Linked DNA regions of Homo sapiens. The protein of the gene in region 1 purifies or fractionates together with the protein of each later gene. This does not show direct contact. Each region holds a gene or a part of one and is shown in the gene's direction. Other genes may lie near its edges.

Evidence for each region. Proteins that work in one complex are often made in the same cells at the same time.
Region 2: the proteins of HNF1A (region 1) and SNX14 purify together in Homo sapiens (affinity purification with mass spectrometry, with the first as the bait; one study listed by BioGRID). This does not show direct contact.

Annotation. Positions count from the first base shown.
Region 1 is NC_000012.12:120,985,043-120,988,542, forward strand, and holds part of HNF1A (hepatocyte nuclear factor 1-alpha), read left to right. Parts: intron 1-3,500. UniProt on the Homo sapiens protein: Transcriptional activator that regulates the tissue specific expression of multiple genes, especially in pancreatic islet cells and in liver. Binds to the inverted palindrome 5'-GTTAATNATTAAC-3'.
Region 2 is NC_000006.12:85,583,859-85,587,358, reverse strand, and holds part of SNX14 (sorting nexin-14), read left to right. Parts: intron 1-3,500. UniProt on the Homo sapiens protein: Plays a role in maintaining normal neuronal excitability and synaptic transmission. May be involved in several stages of intracellular trafficking. Required for autophagosome clearance, possibly by mediating the fusion of lysosomes with autophagosomes.

The DNA of each region.
Region 1 (3,500 bases):
TCAAGAGATCCTCTTGTCTCAGCCTTCTAAGTAGCTGGGACTACAGGCTTGTGCCACCACACTTAGCTAATTTTTCTATTTTTTGTAGAAACAGGGTCCCACTATGTTGTCCAGGCTGGTCTCAAACTCCTGGGCCCAAGGAATCCTCCCACCTTAGCCTCCTGAGGAGCTGGGACTACAGGTGTGCACCACCATGCCTGGCTAATTTATTTTTTTTTTTATAGAGACAGAGTCTCACTATGTTGTCCAGGCTGGTCTTGAACTGCAGGGCTCAAGTGATCCTCCCACCTCGGCCTTTCAAAGAGCTGGGATTACCACCATGAGCCACCATACCCAGTTTACAATTCAGTTTTAAATATTATATATGCCAAGGTGGGAGGATCGCTTGAGCCCAGGAGTTTGAGACCAGCCTGGCCAACATAGCAAGACCCTGTCTCTATGAAAAAAAAAAAATAGAAAAAAGAAGAAAAAGTACAAAAATTAGCTGGGCATGTTGGCATGTGCCTGTGGTCCCAAGTACTTGGGAGTCCGAGGTGGGAGAACCAATTGAGCCCAGGAGTTTGAGGCTACAGTGAGCTATGATCACGCCACTGTGCTCCAGCCTGGGAGACAGAGCAAGTAGCCTCTAAAAAGAAAAATAAATAAATAAAAATAAATATTGGCTGGGCACGGTGGCTCACACCTGTAATCCCAGCACTTTGGGAGGCCAAGGCAGATGGATCACCTGAAGTCGGGAGTTTGAGACCAGCCTGGCCAACATGGTGAAACCCTGTCTCTACTAAAAATATAAAAATTAGCTGGGTGTGGTAGCGCACACCTGTAATCCCAGCTACTCGGGAGGCTGAGGCAGGAGAATCGCTTGAACCTGGGAATCAGAGGTTGCAGTGAGCTGAGCTCGCGCCACTGCACTCCAGCCTGGCCACAGAGCAAGGCTTTGTCTCAAAAAAAAAAACTAAATAAAAATAAATATCATGTATGCATATATAGTATATATTATGTAATTTACAAAGTACACAAGGACAACAGAGAAAACTGTCCTTCTCACTCCCATCCCCAGCACCCCGTTCTCCTCTGGAAGGAACCAGAGTCCCCAGTTCCTTGCGTGCCCTCCGGTATTTTACACGTGCACAAATATGTAGAAATCCTCTTTTACCTCACTTCAAATTATTCATAAGTAGCAGCACAGCAGACACACCAGATAAACTCTGCTCCACCTGGGCACACAGAGCTTCCTCAGCGGGGTTTTTTCAGTGGTTGCATTGAACAGATGCACCTCCATTTAGTTAATCAGTATCCTTTTGCTGGGCTCCTTGGTGGCTTCCAATCTTTTGCTATGGCAAGCAACGTGGCAAGGAATTGCCTTCTACTTGTGCCATTTGTCACCTGTGCCAATATTAAAAGCCACAAATTCTAGAAGCGAATTGCTCAGCGAGGCAGGGGAAAGCACAGGCTTTGGAATCACGCAGACCCAAGTTCAAATCCCAGTCTGCCTGTTTCAGTGCTGCTGTATTGAGCTGTATTTATCTGTAACTTTTTGTTTGTTTGTTTGTTTTTTGAGACGGAGTCTCACTCTGTTGCCCAGGCTGGAATGCAGTGGCGCGATCTCGGCTCACTGCAACCTCTGCCTCCCGGGTTCAAGCAATCCTCCTGCCTCAGCCTCCCGAGTAGCCGGGATTACAGGCACCTGCCACAATATCTGACTTATTTTTTATTTTTATTATTTTTTTCGTAGAGATGGTTTTCTCCATGTTGGCCAGGCTGGTCTTGAACTCCTAACCTCAAAAGACCCGCCCACCTTGGCCTCCCAAAGTGCTGGGATTACAGGTGTGAGTCACTGCACCCAGCCTATCTGTGACATATTGGTAATATAAGTTCAGGAGAGGGAGAGAGAAAGAGGCAGGGATTGAGACAGAGCAGGAGAGGAGGAGAGAAAATTTATATGGCTCAGGCAGTCTGATCCCTTCTGTTCCCCCACAGGGAGACCCACAGCAGAGACATGACTCACAGGTGGCATCAGGTCCCTTTGAGTCTCTCTGGTGGGAGAATCTCAACCCACAGAGTAGGATTCCAGTGTTCACATGCATTTTTGGTACTATGAGGCCTCTGAATGTCAACCCTGTCACCTGAGACTCTGTTGAAAAACCAGCCGCGGCCGGGCGCGGTGGCTCACGCCAGTAATCCCAGCACTTTGGGAGGCCGAGGCAGGCAGATCACAAGATCAGGAGATCGAGACCATCCTGGCTAACACGGTGAAACCCCGTCTCTACTAAAAATACAAAAAAATTAGCCGGGCGTGGTGGCGGGTGCCTGTAGGCCCAGCTACTTGGGAGGCTGAGGCAGGAGAACGGCATGAACCCAGGAGGTGGAACTTGCAGTGAGCCGAGATCGCGCCACTGCACTCGAGCCTGGGTGACAGAGTGAGACTCCATCTCAAAAAAAAAAAAAAAAAAGAAAAAGAAAAGAAAAACCAGCCTCCTGTTCTGGTGCTGCAGGGAAACAGGCCTGGCCACAGCCAAGGGTGCAGATTTTCAGGAAGCATTTTTAAAAATATATATATATATATATACACATATATATATATACAGAGAGAGAGAAGCCACTGAGGCCCACAGAATTTGCATCATTTTATTCCTTGTCCAAGGTCACAGGACAAGCAGAGTCCCACCCACCTGAAAGGATTCAGTTCTAAGACAGCCTTTAGGGCAAAAAGTCACAAAGTTGATCTATCTATCTATCTATCTATCTATCTATCTATCTATCTATCTATCTACGTGTTTGCACCCTAATCACTGGCAGTAAATGCACTTTTTTTCTTTTCTTTTCTTTTTTTTGAGACAGGGTCTTGTTCTGTCACCCAGGCTGGAGTAGGTGTAAAATTGGAGAATCCATATTTCTTTCCTTGTTTTCAGATTTAATGCTTTCCTTTTTCCAGCAGGTCTCCTTCGTCCATCCATCCATCATCCATCTACCCACCCACCCACCAATCCATCCATCCATTCATCCAACCATCCATCCATCCATCATCCATCCACCCACCCACCCACCAATCCATCCATCCATTCATCCAACCATCCATCCATCCATCATCCATCCACCCACCCACCCACCAATCCATCCATCCATTCATCCAACCATCCATCCATCCATCATCCATCTACCCACCCACCCACCAATCCATCCATCCATTCATCCAACCATCCATCCATCCATCATCCATCCACCCACCCACCCACCAATCCATCCATCCATTCATCCAACCATCCATCCATCCATCATCCATCCACCCATCTATCTGTCCATCCACTCTACCCTACCATCCATCCACCAGTCCATCCATCTATCCACCAATTCATCCATCCATCCACCCATTCGCCCATCCATCCATCCACCCACCCATCCATCCATCCGTCCATCCACCCATTCATCCATTCATCCATTCACCCATCCATCCATCCACATATCTTCATCTGTGTTGTGTGTCTGTGTATCCATGTTTCTAA
Region 2 (3,500 bases), on another chromosome or scaffold:
GTATCCTTGATCTGTCTTGCTAGAGGTTTGTCTTTTTAATTAACTTTTGATATTGAAAATTTCCAAGCATACATAAGAGAGTGTAAAAAACTTGCAAGCACCCATTACTCAACTTTAACAACTATCCATATTTTGCCATATTTTTTTTTTTGCCTTATCTTTTTAAGAAATGTCTTATAGAGTGGGTGAGGTGGCCCATGCCTGTAATTCTTGCTCTCTGGGAGGTGGAGGTGGGAGGATCACTTGAGGCCAGGAGTTGGAGATGAACCTGGGCAACATAGAAAAACACTGTCTCTCTCTCTTTCTTTTTTTTGAGATGGAGTCTCACTTTGTCACCTAGGCTGGAGTGCAGTGGCGTGATCTTGGCTCATTGCAATCTCCACTTCTTCAGTTCAAGGAATTCTTGTGCCTCATCCTCCCAGGTAGCTGGGATTACAGGCATCCACCATCATGCCTGGCTAATTTTTGTGTTTTTAGTGGAGACTCCCAACATGGGGTTTTGCCATGTTGGCCAGGCTGGTCTCAAACTCCTGACCTCAAGTGATCTGCCCACCTCGGCCTCCCAAATTGCTGAAATTATGCACCTGGCCAGAAAGACCCTGTCTGTACCAAAAAAAGAAAAAAAAGTAGCGAGCCTATGGTCCTAGCTAACTCGGGAGGCTGAGGTGGGAGGATTCCTGGAGCCAAGAGTTCAAGGCTACAGTGAAATATGATTGTGCCCCGACACTCCAGCCTGGGTGACAGTGCAAGACCATGTCTCTATAAAAGATAGAAATAAAAAAAAAATCACTTCCATACAAAACTATAATATTACAAAATTAACAATAATTGGTTAATATCATCTAATAACTACTCCATAATAAAAATTTTCCCTATTGGGTAAAAATATATAGTGCAGTTGTTCTAATTGGTATCTAAACAAGTTGTACTCCTATTTGGTTCCTACATCTCAAGCTTTTCTAAATGTCTTGTAATCTAGAATAAGGGTTGACACATTTTTTTCTGTAAAGTGTTAGGTAGTAAATATTTTAGGCTTTGTATACCATGCTAAGTCTCTGTTGCTTATTCTTCTTTCTAAAAAACCCTTTAAAAATGTAAAACCTTTCTTAGTATGAGGGGCATACAAAAACAGGTATACTTTTGTCCACAGGCCATCATTTGTCAACTGCTGATCTGGAAGATCCCTCCTCACCATTTTTTTCTCCTTGCCATTGACTTGTTGAGGAAACTGGATCATTTGTTCACATTCTGGATTTTGTTGTGGTTTCCTTGTAGTGTCTTGTATTTTAATCCTCACATTTGTATTTTTGGTAGTCACAGTGTTTGATCTATAGGCTCAATTAGATTTAGTTTTTTTTTTTTTTTTTTCCTGTTGCGGGGAGTGGTGCAAGAAGACTTTAGTGATGCCATGTACATTCCATTGCATCACATCAGTGGATATGTAAGATAGGATTGCTTCACTTTTAATGGGTTCAGTTAATGTCCACCGATACTGTGTCCAACAAACTTACTCTTTGGTTTTACCATTTATTTATTTCTTGAATCAGTTACTTAATTATGGGTTACAACATGGTTATTCTCGAATTCTCTCATTTCTTCTGTATTTTTAAGTTTGATTCTTTTTTGTAGAATTGCTTTACTCCATCCGTTAGGTCTATTTAGTTATTCTGATAGATAGTTCAAATTGGAAAAGTAGGATAAATGCTTACTCTTTATCAATTTTTAGAGTAATAATTGGTACCCTACTAACCTCCATTAGTATCCAGTTAGAAGTTTGGTTGTTTTATTAATTTTTTCAAAGAACTAGCTTATATTTTGTTAATTTGTCATTGTTGTCTATTTTGTTGATTTCTGCTCTTGACTATTTCCTTCCTTTTCATGTGTTTGGATTTATTGTTTTTCCCCCCAAGTTTCTGAATGCTTAGCTTATTGGTTTTCAGTGTTTTTGTTGTTGTTGTTGTTTGTTTTTTTTTAATTATACTTTAAGTTCTGGGATACATGTGCAGAACATGTGGGTTTGTTACATAGGTATACATGTGCCATGGTGGTTTGCTGCACCCTCAATCCATCATCTACATTAGGTATTTCTCCTAATGCTATCCCTCCCCCAGTCCCCCACTCCCCAGCAGGTCCTGGTTTGTGATATTCCCCTCCCCTGTGTCTATGTGTTCTCATTGTTCAACTCCCACTTATGAGTAAGAACATGCAGTGTTTGGTTTTCTGTTCCTGTGTTAGTTTGCTGAAAATGATGGTTTCCAGCTTCATCCATGTTCCTGAAAAGGACATGAACTCATCCTTTTTTATGGCTGCCTAGTATTTCATGGTGATAGTATTTCCAGTCTATCACTGATGGGCATTTCGGTTGGTTCCAAGTCTCTGCTATTGTGTATAGTGCTGCAATACACAAACGTGTGCATGTGTCTTTATAGCAGAATGATTTATAATTCTTTGGGTATATACCCAGTAATGGGATTGCTGGGTCAAATGGTATTTCTGGTTCTAGATCCTTAAGGAATCACCACACTGTCTTCCACAATGGTGGAACTAATTTACACTCCCACCAACAGTGTAAAAGTGTTCCTGTTTCTCCACATCCTCTCCAGCACCTGTTGTTTCCTGACTTTTTAATGATCACCATTCTAACTAGCATGAAATGGTATCTCATTGTGGTTTTGATTTGCATTTCTCTAATGACCCGTGATGATGAGCTTTTTTTCATATGTTTGTTGGCTGCATAAATGTCTTCTTTTGAGAAGGATCTGTTTGTATCCTTCGCCCACTTTTTGATGGGGTTGTTTGTTTTTTTCTTGTAAATTTGTTTAACTTCCTTGTAGATTCTGGATATTAGCCCTTTCTCAGATGGATAGATTGCAGAAATTTTCTCCCATGCTGTAGGTTGCCTGTTCACTCTGATGATAGTTTCTTTTGCTGTGCAGAAGCTCTTTAGTTTAACTAGATCCCATTTGTCAATTTTGGCTTTGTTGCCATTGCTTTTGGTGTTTTAGTCGTGAAGTCTTTGCCCATGCCTGTGTCCTAAATGGTATTGCCTAGGTTTTATTCTAGGGTTTTTATGGTTTTGGGTCTTACGTTTAAGTGTTTAATCCATCTTTATTTGATTTTTGTATAAGGTGTAAGGAGGGGGTCCAGTTTCAGTTTTCTGCATATGGCTAGCCAGTTTTCCCAACACCATTTATTAAATAGGGAATCCTTTCTTCATTGCTTGTTTTTGTCAGGTTTGTCAAAGATCAGATGGTTGTAGATGTGTGGTGTTATTTCTGAGGCTTCTGTTCTGTTCCATTGGTCTATATATCTGTTTTGGTACCAGTACCTTGCTGTTTTGGTTACTGTAGCCTTGTAGTATAGTTTGAAGCCAGGCAGTTTGATGCCTCCAACTGTGTTCTTTTAGCTTAGGATTGTCTGGCTATATAGGCTCTTTTTTGTTTCCATATGAAATTTAAAGTATTTTTTTTTCTAATTCTGTTAAGAAAGTCAATGGTAGC